Homo sapiens: one gene and its partner. Changing the gene in region 1 together with any one later gene gives a genetic interaction. Each region holds a gene or a part of one and is shown in the gene's direction. Other genes may lie near its edges. The genes, in order: NUS1 and EGFR.

Region 1 (2,908 bases):
AACCCTCTGATTGTGTATTCAGTCTATCTTTAAAGTGCTTATTTTCACACTGTAATTGCCCTTGAGTAATTGGAAATGGTGGAGGTAAGTGTTGATTTCTAGGTTGCTCACAACATGGCTACAATATTTCATCATGTTTGGATGCTGTGTGGCTCTGCCCAACATTAAGCATGGCTTTCCTAAACTAAGTAATATTGGCTTTACTCTGACCAAGGAGAAATTCTTTAATGGATTTAAATGAGATCCTTTATACATAGATCTCTAGCTTTGCATTAATCTGAGCTTACGCTTTAACAAGTTATGAATCTCTCATTACTAGTTGCTTTTCTTGTGGAAAAAGAGGCATATTAATTTTTTAGTTGATGATGACATTGTGTGTCCTTGTCATCTCATTGTCCACAATGAGCTGAACAATCTTAGTAGAATTGTTTGGCATATTCTGCTTATAATTTACCCTCAGAGCAGAGGGAATAGCTATCTTCAATGAACACTCGTCAATAAACAGTGAGTGCCACTACCCCTCGGTGCCTCAGAGGCTCTCTGCTATTTCCCAGTCAGTTCTGTCAGGGCCCCACCCTTTCAGTCTACATATTATGATTAAGACATTTTCCGTGCCTGTCATGGTGCTGTCTGGTGGAGGATAATTTGGTGTATTCTATTCTTAACTTCTTTTTGGTCCTTATCTTCTGGTTCCCCCCTACATTACAGTGTATATCTAATTGCTTTTCTCCCCCCGTGTTTTCTTTTCAGCTCTTTGCCTTCCCACCTAAACATCAGTTATGAGGACTTTTTCTCTGCCCTTCGTCAATATGCAGCCTGTGAACAGCGTCTGGGAAAGTAGTGGTCATTGGTTGCATAATTTGATTTGAGGCTTGTGGAGGAAAGGAACCAAGTGACTCTGATGTTTACAAAGCACCTATGAAACCCTGTACACACCTAGTTCATAATCCTCATAATTTATCAACAAACACAAAAAAGTGTCTTACTTGAGAGTGAGTGTGTGTGTGTGCGTGTGCACGTGCACACATGTGCACGTTTGTATGTATGGAAATAAACTTATAAATGGGGACGTATTGGAGAAGGAAATACATAGACCTACAACTTTGAGCAAATAGCAGTGATGTTTTAGGAACTGAAATGTCACACTTAAAGTCTTCAGCCCAGCTACTTCCCTATTTTTGTGGGGAGAAGAGGGCCTGATTAGAACTGTTCTGGTTGTGTTTGGCGGGAGGGGAATAATTTTTGTTCAGTCCTTCTTAGTGACCAAACTTTAATTTTTAAGAATAATATATTGACTTACTGAACTGAAGCATTCTGAGTTGAAAGGAGCTCCAGAGGAGTGGAGTTCTGTGTTGCTCACATGTTAAAATCTTGCTCACCTTCAGAGCAGAGGGAATACCTATCTTCAGATATCCGTCCATTTTCATCTCTTAATTGTAGTCAAAAGTATGACTTGAGAGTGTTGCTCTGGTATTCTGGGTTCTGAAGTCTGGTATTCTGGTATTCTGGGTTCAAAAGTATGACTTGAGAGTGTTGCTCTGGTATTCTGAGAGTTGCTCTGTATTCTGGGTTCTGAAGATTATTTGAAAAATAACTCCTACTACATTGAAATGCAGACTTAAAAATTTAAACATTGGATTAGGCAGTCAAAAAAACCAAGCAAGCATAAAAGGTCAATAAGTTGTAATCTTGATAGTAAAGGTGGAAAACTTATTATAAATGGAAAGAAAGTTTTATTTCCTTTTTTGTTTGATGGGCAGTATGCCATATTATACCCAAAGTTCTTTTAAAAAATATTTCCATCAACCATTTTTATTTAAAATAAACATTTGAGGGAAGTTACCAAGGCAGCTTTTTTCCTCAAAAGTAACCTGTTCCTCTTTGGAATAGCACATTTTAGGGGCATGGTTAATACCTGAGATTTTTACTCAGTAAATCCTGATGGTTACTGTGTGTAAAATATCTTTAAGTAGGATTGAAGGCCTCTGTGGGGGAATAAAATATTACCAAAGTCTATAAAAATAAATTTTACATGTTCTCTTTTATGACAGAGAGCAGCACTGGTTCTGTTATTTTTAAAATGAATAATTGATTTCTTGATAGGTGTTTAATATTTCTTCCCTCACTGCTGATTCTTAGATAGAAACCATTCTTTATATTTGATAGACTGCTTTCAGAAAACCCTTATCAACAAGTGTACAATACTTATCTAAAACTATACATTTAGAATGGAGCAGTTTAATACTAGATCTCAGAAGTTTTGAAAAATAGCAAAGAAGACTGGATTTGGAAAGCATGGTCTACAATTGGTTGTTAAATTCTGAAGCTATGAAGAATAAATGTTTCAACTTTGGATTATGAAACCCCATTTATGATTTTTTAAATACACTTGAAATAAAAATGATTAAACTAAATTTTGGTCCAGTGACATTACTTTGCACTGCATAATCCATTATACGTTGTACGACTTTTTTTTTTTGTTTTAATTTATTACTGAGAGTTTTGTGTGAAGCTACAGCATATCTAACCAGAGAATTTCTGATTCCTTATACTGTGATTATATTATATTGAGGCATTTGTAGTGCAGCTGAAGACTGAATTTATGCCTTTTGTAAACATGATAGGTATAAATGTCTTATAAACATTCTGGAGTATGTATAGCTTTAATGAATGAAATTTAATGGACCTGATTAAAATGAAGGGATTTAATCGTTGTTAAAGTTAAGTTAGTCAAATAAATTACCTACTGGAATATAGCCCAAGCCAGTAAAGGTTTAATATTTGCATTTTCGTGCTTTTATTTTCTCCTTCCATTCATAAGTATATACTTGAAAGTACATCTGTAGCCTATGATTTGAGTCTCTTGAAGTTCTAGGAAGAGGCAAACTACAAACTACTAGGATTCTGA
Region 2 (3,500 bases), on another chromosome or scaffold:
GCAAGGGGAAAGGGCCCAGGGAGCCGGCTCATGACGATGAGCCTGTCTGAAGCTTCAACGCGGGCTGTCCGGCAGTCTGCATTCCTGCCGAGTTCCTCAGCCCTCTGTTGGGTCACCTTCCATAGAGGCAGCTTAGTCCTCAGTTCAGTGAGCATGGAGTGGAGACTGCTTGAGGGGTGCTGAGCAAAGCCCTGCCTCTTACAGGATGAAGGTGCTCTCCAGAAGGGACACTGGAAAGTATTCCAAGGCGAGTCGAATTCCCAACTGAGGGAGCTTTGTGGAAATAAGCCCGCCCAGCCCCACTTCTGGAGACGTTCCCATTCAGTAGGTCCGAGCTGTCTTAAAGAGAAACCAAAGTGGGGATATTAATGGTATCCAAAGTGAGATCTACCCCACCCTCCCTCCTCAAAGGAGGTCAGATCAAGAAAGCCCAAGCCCGGCCTGGCAATTGGGACCTTTCTTCTCACTCCAGCCCAGGGTGAAGGTGGACAAGTCACTTTGACCCTTCAGGCTTCTGAGCTGTTGTTTCTGAATTCAGTGAATATTTACTGAGTGCATAGAATATGCTAGATATTCTGGGCTAAAGGTTGAAGGGGGGGTGAGTTTTAAGGGTTTCTGCTCTTGCTTCCAGATTGCTTTCAAATCTGGAAAGGACACCAGTGGTTTGTGTGTTAGACCCACACTGCCGTAGCACAGAATACAAGAAACTGGCTGAGAGCTCCAATAGGCTTTTAACAGTAATTTCTGGCTTCACGTATTTAGTTTCATAACTCATGATTTTTCAAAAACTTCTGGTTTGAAGACACCGATTGCCGAAAGTCCATTGTGCTGCATAATTACACTTGGTCCACGTGACAGCACTAACATGTTCTGAAATGTTTTTAGAAGTAGTCTCAGCAAAGATGAAGGATTCCTCCCTGTTTGAAAAGAAAATATTCTTTGTTTTTTCTTTGATCTAAGCTCTAAGACTAGCAGCTAGCATCTGAAACTTTTTTGACGAGAGTGACAAACCAACTCTAATATTAAAGGCAATTGATGATTATGGGCACTGAAGGGAAGGTAACCCCAGGCTGGTGCCCCGGAATAGGGATGGGTCACAATGTTGAGGACATTTCGCCTGTTGCAGAACCCACCTGCAACACAGTGTGGCCCTTGCCATGTGACTTGTGTGTGTGCCTGTGTGTCTGTGTGTGCGTGTTTTAATTTTGACTTCATAAGTACTCTAGTTATGAGCTTATTTAACATTGGGTTTTACTAATAGGGGTATGTGTTGAGAAAATTTCAAAGTTTTAGAATATGGTTCACCCACATGTTGCTTCCCTGTAAATATAATTTTTAAAACCAGATTCTGGGCCGGGCATGGTGGCTCACCTCTATAATCCCAAAACGTTGGGAGGCCGAGGCAGGCGAATCATGAAGCCAGGAGTTTGAGACCAGGCTGACCAACACGGTGAAACCCAGTCTCTACTAAAAATACAAAAAAAATTAGCTGGGCGTGGTGGCAGGTGCCTGTAATCCCAGCTACTCAGGAGGCTGAGGCAGGAGAATTGCTTGAACCCAGGAGGCAGAGGTTGCAGTGAGCCAAGATCGCACCATTGCACTCCAGCCCGCGCGACAGTGTGAGACTCCATCTCAAAAAAAAAAAAAAAAAAACAGATTCTGTTCCTCAGATCCATTCCATTTTTGTTTTCCTTTATCACTTATGGACATTTGAAATTATGGTAATAAACATTGTTAGTCTCAGTTAATTATTACTGGTTTATTCTTGAACCACTAATCCATAGAGAATAGAGTGTAAATCTTAACTTGTTCCTGTAGGCCATCCCCATTAAACATCATAGTGTTTTCTCATTCGTTCTTTTTCGTTTTCCTCCTACAGGAATGAATTTTCTAAGAAAATTCCAGCAGTTGGCTCTTTGGACGACATCTCTAGATTGTCCTCCATTGGGCCCATAGGCACAAGCTGGCCAGTTTGAATTTGGGCAAGAATCCAGGCATTGGAACTTATTCAAATAACTAGTTTGCCTGTAATTTTCACTTTTTCAGAGTCATCTGATAAAGCTTTCTTGCTACACATTTAGATAGATACACTCAATCCAGTTGTCTAGAAAGTTCCCTGAGCCAGCTGGGAGCAGGAGGGGTAGTTGGGGCCAGGAATATTGGGGGTGTGTTTACTGAGCCCCTAGAAAGTAAGTGCTAGATTTGACATTTCAATCCCTGAAGGCCCTGAAGTTCAGTATCAAATGACTGGTCCTGTGGACTGAGCATCTGTGAATTGCATATGCTTAGAGTAAATTTTACTCCTACCAGTTTCAGCAGCTTGCTTTAGCAAGCAGTATGGAAACACTAACATGGGGGAGTAGAATTTCTCTCTCTGATCCAAGTTTTATCTCATTCTGGTGGGTTTTCAAGGAGAGACTCGGAGTCCAAGTGTCCTTTCTGAATATATCTGGAACTTCTCATTAACAAAAGACTCAAGTTATAATTTAGGGGACAAGGCACCCAATGAGAATGCCTTGCAGGCAGCCCTAAGTACACCTGCAATTACACCATTACTAGCGCGGCAGCACACATGGCCCTGACTTAGTTTAAATAATTACGTAAGTCAACCATGATTGTTTGCCCTTTGCATAGAAGGGCAAGTATTGGTACCTGTTACAACTTAGGCTTTTTTTTCTTTATGTTTGAGCCATGATGAGTGATTTACACTGTTGCATCCATATGTTGAGATGTAAGAATAAATTAGACTTGGTAATTGCCCTTAAGTGTCTGGAAGTCAACTGGGGAAAGAGAGCTAGAGATAATAAGTGTGAAACAATGTCACAGAATCAATGACGGAACTCTTCCCAGGACAAAGGATGACTTTTGAGTTCAGTCTTTGCCTTTAATTCTACATGGGGAGGAGAGCACGTTTAGCCACAAATGGAAGGGATTACTCATTTGAGCTATTTGGTTATATGATTATTTCCCCAGAGAATAGGATGTGCAGGGCATTACACAAGCAGTGCCAATAGCAGCAAAGTTCTTGAGAGTGCTAGTAATTCAAATGGCAGGAAGAGAAGGAATAAATGGTAAGGCTACCTACAGTTCACAGAGAGCTCCATCCTCACTGTGGCTTTGGATTTTGTCCTGTGTGAAAGAGAAGTGACTGTGAACTGACATGCTGTGTTTGGTGTTTTAGAAAGATGGCTGCAGCAGCGGTTTGGGGAATGGACTGCAGGAGTGGCATTGGAAACAGGAAGGTTCATGACTATTGCCAGAGACAGAGGATGAAGCAGGAGCAAGGAAGATTCAGGACAGGGGACTCCGGGGCTGATCAGGAGGCAGAACTGGTTGATAAGTATATGTAGCAGCATAAGAAAGAAAGAATCCCAGATTGACACCCAGGCTTCTCACTTGGAAGCCTGGATAGATACTGAATGCAATCACAAAGGCTGGGAAGTCAATGGGACTGCAGGGAAGGGAAGGGAAGGGAGGAGAAGAGGAAGGGCAGGAGGGTC

What was found.
Region 2: changes in NUS1 (region 1) and EGFR together harm fitness more than expected from each alone (negative genetic interaction), as found in Homo sapiens cells (one large-scale study listed by BioGRID).

Annotation. Positions count from the first base shown.
Region 1 is NC_000006.12:117,706,175-117,709,082, forward strand, and holds part of NUS1 (dehydrodolichyl diphosphate synthase complex subunit NUS1), read left to right. Parts: intron 1-750; coding exon 751-841; 3' UTR 842-2,908. UniProt on the Homo sapiens protein: With DHDDS, forms the dehydrodolichyl diphosphate synthase (DDS) complex, an essential component of the dolichol monophosphate (Dol-P) biosynthetic machinery.
Region 2 is NC_000007.14:55,022,017-55,025,516, forward strand, and holds part of EGFR (epidermal growth factor receptor isoform a precursor), read left to right. Parts: intron 1-3,500. UniProt on the Homo sapiens protein: Receptor tyrosine kinase binding ligands of the EGF family and activating several signaling cascades to convert extracellular cues into appropriate cellular responses.